Homo sapiens: one gene and its partner. The protein of the gene in region 2 purifies or fractionates together with the protein of the main gene of each other region. This does not show direct contact. Each region holds a gene or a part of one and is shown on either strand. Other genes may lie near its edges.

Region 1 (3,824 bases), on a different chromosome or scaffold from region 2:
CCAGGCTGGAGTGCAGTGGTGCAATCTCAGTTCAGTACAACCTCTGCCTCCCCGGTTCAAGTGAATCTCCTGCCTCAGCCTCCCATGTAGCTGGGACTACAGGCATGTGTCACCCAGCCTGGCTAATGTTTGTATTTTTAGTGGAGACGGGGTTACACCATGTTAGCCAGGCTGGTCTCGAACTCCTGCCCTCAGGTCATCCGCTCTCGCCTCGGCCTCCCAAAGTGCTAGGATTACAGGTGTGAGCCACCAAGCCTGGCCCACAGTATTTTATTTTAGTATTTTGTATTTTTTATTTAATAGACTAGGGATGGGGTCTTGCTATGTTGCCCAGGCTGGTCTCCAAATCCTGGTCTCAAGCAATCCTCCTGCTTCAGCCTCCGAAAGTGCTGGGATTCATACACAGTGTTTTATTTATTTTATTTTACTTTAATTTTTTTTTTTTTGAAATGGATTCTTGCTCTGTTACCCAGGCTGGAGTACAGTGGCACGATCTTAGCTCACTGCAACCTTCGCCTCCCAGATTCAAGCAATTCTCTTGCTTCAGCCTCCTGAGTAGCTGGGATTACAGGCACCTGCCATCATGCCCAGCTAATTTTTGTATTTTTAGTAGAGACGGGGTTTCGCCATATTGGCCAGGCTGGTCTCAAACTCCTGAGCTCAGGTGATCTGCCCAGCTCAGCCTCCCAAAGTTCTGGGATTACAGGCATGAGCTACCATACCCAGCCATACACAGTATTTTAAAAACAGAGGAAACAGTTTAGATTGTATATTTCATTTTATTATTAAAGTAACTAAAGCGAAGTAAGATGGTTGTGAGTAAAATCATGCAGATGATGGCAGTTAAACCAGAACCGAGGAACCCCAGCTTCTAATCTAGTGTCGTTTCCAAGTGTATAAATGTGCTCAAGAACTTGAACTAGGATGGAACTAGAATTTATCTAGAGGCCAGAAGAGGGATGGAGGAAGAAAGAATGAATTGAACAAAATAAGACTGGTATCACTATTACCCTCACTTACATGCAGGGAAACTGAGGCTTCAATGATCAGGTAACTTGCCTAAGGTCATAATTTGCATGAAGCAAAACTGACACTGAGCCCAGAGCTGTCACCAAAGCCAGTGTTCTAAATCAATATATTATACTACCCCTAACATAGGAGAAAGAGAGGAGATGGTAGAGTAGACTGTAAGAAAAGGACTCCTGGCTGGGCATAGTGGCCCACACCTGCAATTCCAGAACTCTGGGAAGCTGAGGCTGGTGGATCACTTGAGTCCAGGAGTTCGAGACCAGCCTGGGCAACATAGCGAGACTCTGTCCCTACAAAAAATACAAAAAAAATTAGCTAGCCATGGTGGTGTGCCTGTAGCCGCAGCTACTTGGGAGGCTGGGAGGATTGCTTGAACCCGGGAGGCAGAGGTTGCAGTGAGCTGAGATAGTGCCATTGTACCACTCCAGCCTGGTCAACAGAGTGAGACATCTCAAAAAAAAAAAAAAACACACACACACACACACAAAAACAAAACAGAGAGAGAAGGACTCCTGTTTCCAAGCATAGGGGCAACCTAGACAATGGTAGAGTCATTAGAAATCCACACAGCTTTAAAAGAGCAGCACAGAGGGGAGAAGATTCAGGAACGTGGAAGAGGTACTTCTAATGGCCAAAGCACCCTTTTCTTACTGACAGGATTAGTAAGAGCCACTATTTACAAAGTGCTTACTCTGCTCCAGGAGTGTGCTTTACACATGATATTACGTTTAATGATCATAGCAGAATTAGCAGTAGGTACTATTATGCCATTTCCAGATGCAGAAGTCAACTGACTTGCCTTAGCTCAAAGAGTGAGTAAGAGGCAAACCTAGAACAGAAAAGCACATCTACCTGACTTTAAAAACTGCAGTTCTTGGCCAGGTGCAGTGGCTCAGGCTTGTAATTCCAGCACTTCGGAAGGCCAAGGCAGGTGGATCACTTGAGGTCAGGAGTTCGAGACCTGCCTGGCTAACATGGTGAAACCCCATCTCTACTAAAAATACAAAAATTAGTCAGGCATGGTGGCAGGCGCCTGTAGTCCCAGCTACAGGCTGAGGTGGGAGAACTGACTGAACCTGGGAGGTGGCGGTTGCAGTGAGCCAAGATCACACCACTGTACTCAAGCCTGGGCGACAGAGTGAGACTCCATCTTAAAAAACAAACAAACAGACAAAACTGCAGTTCTTTTCATAATGACGAACTACCTTACACTGAATGAAATCAGATTTGCTTCCTGGGGAGAAGGCAAAGGCAAAGGGGGGCGGGAAAGGACAGACATACCTTCTATGAGAGCAAAGGATTATCTGGCTGTATTCTGTCTTTAGCAGTCCTCACAGAGCCTAGGCAACCCTCAGAATCCCTGAACTGCCTTAAGCCCACCTTTTTTTTTTTTTTTTTTGGAGACGGAGTCTTGCTCTGTTGGCAGGATGGAGTACAGTGGCGCAATCTCGGCTCACTGCAACCTCTGCTTGCCGAGGTTCAAGAGATTCTCCTGCCTCAGCCTCCTGAGTAGCTGGGACTATAGGCACGCACCACCACGCCCAGCTAATTTCCGTATTTTTAAAAGAGATGGGGTTTCACCATGTTGGCCAGGATGGTCTTGATCTCTTGCTCTCGTGATCTGCCCGCCTCAGCTTCCCAAAGTGCTGGGATTACAGGTGTGAGCCACCGCACCCAGCCTTAAGCCCACTTTTAAATTCTTCCCTAGGCTAATCAGTAACCAGCAGAGGAACAGAAGGGGGAGGAAGTAGGAAAGATAGCCAAATCTGGATCTAGATCACTTCTTTACAGAGTTTGCACTATACAGAATAATTAATCCCTGCATAGTAAGTAGCAGAAAAGGTCTCTCGTATTTCTAATTTTCAAGGCAACAGCATAATTCCAGGGGTGAGGAATTAATGATTAAACCAAGAATAGAGTTTTTGTTTTTTTTTTTCCCCAACAGAGATGAGGTCTTGCTATCTTTGCCCAGGCTGGACTCAAACTTTCCAGCTCGGCTGGGCGCGGTGGCTCACGCCTGTAATCCCAGCACTTTGGGAGGCCAAGGCGGGCGGATCACGAGGTCAGGAGATCGAGACTATCCTGGCTAACACGGTGAAACCCCGTCTCTACTAAAAATACAAAAAATTAGCCGGGCGTGGTGGCGGGCGCCTGTAGTCCCAGCTACTCGGGAGGCTGAGGCAGGACAATGGCGTTAACCCAGGAGGCAGAGCTTGCAGTGAGCCGAGATTGTGCCACTGCACCCCAGCCTGGGCAACAGCACAAGACTGTCTCAAAAAAAAAAAAAAAAAAAAAACTTTCCAGCTTAAGCAATCCTTCTGCATCAGCCTCCCGAGTTGCTGGGACTACAGGCACGTGCCACTGTCCCTAGCTCAAGAAGGGAATTTTAACTCCGGATTTATAACATTTCCTTCTAACTAGATTTCGTTCTTTCAAAGTAGGAATTGAATCTCTAGTTCTCTTTGGAATTCCCCCTTTCTCAACAATGCTATGATTAAGGATGTTCATTAAAAAAAAAAAAAGGATATTCATATAGAGAGAGAATGGGAAAAAGCAGAAAGGGGAGGAAACAGGTCCAGAAACAGGTCAAGGGACCTCATGTAAGTACATTAATATAAGAACCTAAGAGAGGTCCTTATAGGACAGCTGTAGAGCACAGAGGTACATACAGGCAGACTCTGTAAGGCTCTTAGGTTGGAGAAGGGACACAGACTCACCGTTGTTTGGAGTGCCACATGGGGACAGAAAATAGCCAACTGCCGCACTGGCTCATTGTGAGTGTTGAAAAAGATAGT
Region 2 (2,981 bases):
CGGCCTGGACTTGGTTTTTATCAGTTAAACTGGGGGTTGGCAAACCATGGCCCACCAGTCAAGTCCAGCCTGCCACCTGTGGCTGTAAGGCATTTTATTGGAACCTCTGTTCATTTGTTTACATATTATATGTGGCTGCTCTCGTGTTGCAGTGGCAGGGCCGAGTAGTTGCAACACAGACTGTGTGGCTGACAAAGGCTAAGATATTTGCCATCTGGCCTTTTACAGAAACAGTTTGCTGACCTCTGAGCTCAACAGTGTGTCTCAACCTTTCTATATCAGCACAGAAAGAGCTTCCTCACTTTTTTTAAGGCGGCATAATATTTTGTTGTATGGCTGCAGTATAACTTATTTTTAATCAGGCCCTTTTAATGGATATTTAGGTCATTTTTGACTTTTTTTTTTGTTGCTTAAGACAGGATCTCACTATGTTGCCCAGGCTGAACTCAAGCGATCCTCTCGCCTCAGCTCCCAGAGTAACAGGCTACAGCTGTGATTCAACACACCTGGCTCATTTCTAACTCTTTTGCTGCTGCAAATAATGCTGCAGTGAATAAGCTAGTACTTAGCTCATTTTCCACATGTGTGATTATATTTACAGAATGAAGCCTGGAAGTGGAATTGCTCAATCAAAGCCTGTATGCATTGATAATGTTTATAGCTATTGTCAAATTGCCCTCTGTGGAGGTTGTACCAACTGACATTCTCACCAATGTTATGAAAGTGCCCATTTTGCCCTACCTTTGCCAGCAGAGTATTTTAAGCCTTTTGATATTTATCAATCTGCCAGGTTAAAAAAAGAGGTAGCCCAGGGTAGTTTACTTTGCATGTCTTTTATTCTGATGCATTGCACGTTCTTCCATGCATTGATGAGGCGTGTGCTCCTTCCTCAGCTGGCAGTTTACTGTCCTGGTCTGAGGATCTTCTGGGGACTGGTCTCTCTTGCTGACTCTTTCGTGTCATTTTCACAAACAACCTTTTGAGGAAAAAAAGTCTTAAGGACAAACACATGCTGGCAATTAGCGCCATCGACATTCCAGATATCGGGGCTGGGAAGGCAGGGTGAGACCTGCTGGGTGTCATCGTTCTGCTCTGAACTAGGAGGACTGACTTTCAGAGGGTTCTCGGTGTCCTCTTCTTCCACAGCGCTCCTGTTGACACAAACAGCCTCATGTTCCTCCAGATTTTTGATGGGGACCACGTGGCAGGCGTTGTATTTGCAGGTGGCCATCTTTTTGGCTTTCTTGGGGTTCTTTCTCCTGCACGATGCCAGGTGGTACTGGAATCTGCTGAGTGGGATTCGGTGGTGAGGATCATAAGGGCAAATTTCAAAGGCTTCTGGCTCCATGAGAAATTCTTGAAGCAGGGTATCTCACTGCTAGAGTCTAACGGAAATGCTTCTTGTGGAGAAGCCCTTTTGTAAGAAGGATGGAGTTGTCCTCTGCCCAGTTTTGGCCCTTGGGATTCTGTAGGTGACGGTCTTAACTTGTGGTCTGTTCTCTAGGACTGTGAGTGGTGGATTAGAAGAGAGATGAGGAGCTGCCAAAAGCAGCTACACAGAGAACAGAGTTAGCAAATGGCACCCGAGACAGAACTATAGCAGATGCAAGAGCCAAAAACCCACAGCCGCTTGACTCACGGATATACTATGATGTCAAGCTGCAGTCACCGGTGGTCACAATGGGCAGCCTAAGTCATCAGGAAGAGGCTATTGTGCACTGCTTGGGAGGGGTGGATGGCTTTGGGAATGCTGCCATCTAAAATTGCTCATGGATGTATGTTGTGACTTAAGTCTTTTAACTGTACGTATTTGTTTTTTGTTTTTGTTTTTGTTTTATTTGAGACAGAGTCTCGCTCTGTTGCCAGGCTGGAGTACAGTGGTGCGATCTTGGCCCACTGCAATCTCCGCCTCCCAGGTTCAAGTGATTCTCCTGCCTCAGGCTCCCGAGTAGCTGGGATTACAGGCACCTGCCATCATGCCCGGCTAATTTTTTGTATTTTTAGTAGAGACGGGTTTCACCATGTTGGCCAGGCTGGTCTTGAACTCCTGACCTCAGGTGATCCACCCGCCTCAGCCCCCCAAAGTGCTGGGATGATAGGTGTGAGCCCCTGCGCTTTGCCAGGGCTGGTTTTTGGATGTGATTCTCAGGGCCGTCTTTCTTTACCCTTCTGCTCTGCTGAGGCCCACAGCAGCCTAGTCTCCTTGGGTGTGGGGGAAGGGTTTAAATCTATTCATATATCGCAGAAGGTGAAGCCTTTTGGTGTTCAGCTTAACATGGGAAACATTTCCTATAAAACGCCCCATCTTAGGTCGACCCTGCCGTTGTCCCTCACAGAACTGGACCAAAGTCTGAATGGACGCAATTGACACATATCTCAGGGTGTTAGTGGTTTTGGTCCTCTGACATTCTATTTACATGTCTGGTGTTAGGTAGGATTTCTTCTAAAAATTGGCCTGGAGCTCCTTCCCACCCCCCACCCTGTTAAATTGTTTCTCAAGATCTGAGTGACAGTAGAGAAATACCATATTCCTGAATAGGAAGACTCAAAATCATAAATGAATATTCTCTGTAAACTAAATTACATAAATTACATAGTCATCCTAAATTGATACATAAATATAATGCAATTCCAAATAATTTTTGTAGCTTTATGTGCTGATATCTGATAGAGCAAGTCTCTGCTTGTTATTAGTTTTCCCCCCAAAAGCCTTGACTATCTTCAAGGATTTGTTATTCTAGATCATGTGTCAACAAACTATGGGCCCATGATTCAAATCCAGATGGCTATCTGCTTTTGTAAATAAAGTTTTATTGAAGCACAGCCACACCCATTTGTTTATATATTGTCCATTGGCTGCTTTTGAGCTAGATTTGAGTAGTTGCAACAGAATCCAGATGACCTAGAAACCTCTAATGTTTTCTGTCTGGCCCATTATAGAAAAAGCTCACCCATCCTATTCTTGGTGGTGGTTAAGGAAG

The links.
Region 1: the proteins of GTSF1L (region 2) and PRUNE1 purify together in Homo sapiens (affinity purification with mass spectrometry; one large-scale study listed by BioGRID and IntAct). This does not show direct contact.

The regions. Positions count from the first base shown.
Region 1 is NC_000001.11:151,028,867-151,032,690, reverse strand, and holds part of PRUNE1 (exopolyphosphatase PRUNE1), read right to left. Parts: coding exon 3,747-3,824; intron 1-3,746. UniProt on the Homo sapiens protein: Phosphodiesterase (PDE) that has higher activity toward cAMP than cGMP, as substrate. Plays a role in cell proliferation, migration and differentiation, and acts as a negative regulator of NME1. Plays a role in the regulation of neurogenesis.
Region 2 is NC_000020.11:43,725,347-43,728,327, forward strand, and holds GTSF1L (gametocyte-specific factor 1-like), read right to left. Parts: upstream 1,657-2,981; 5' UTR 1,349-1,656; coding exon 902-1,348; 3' UTR 818-901; downstream 1-817.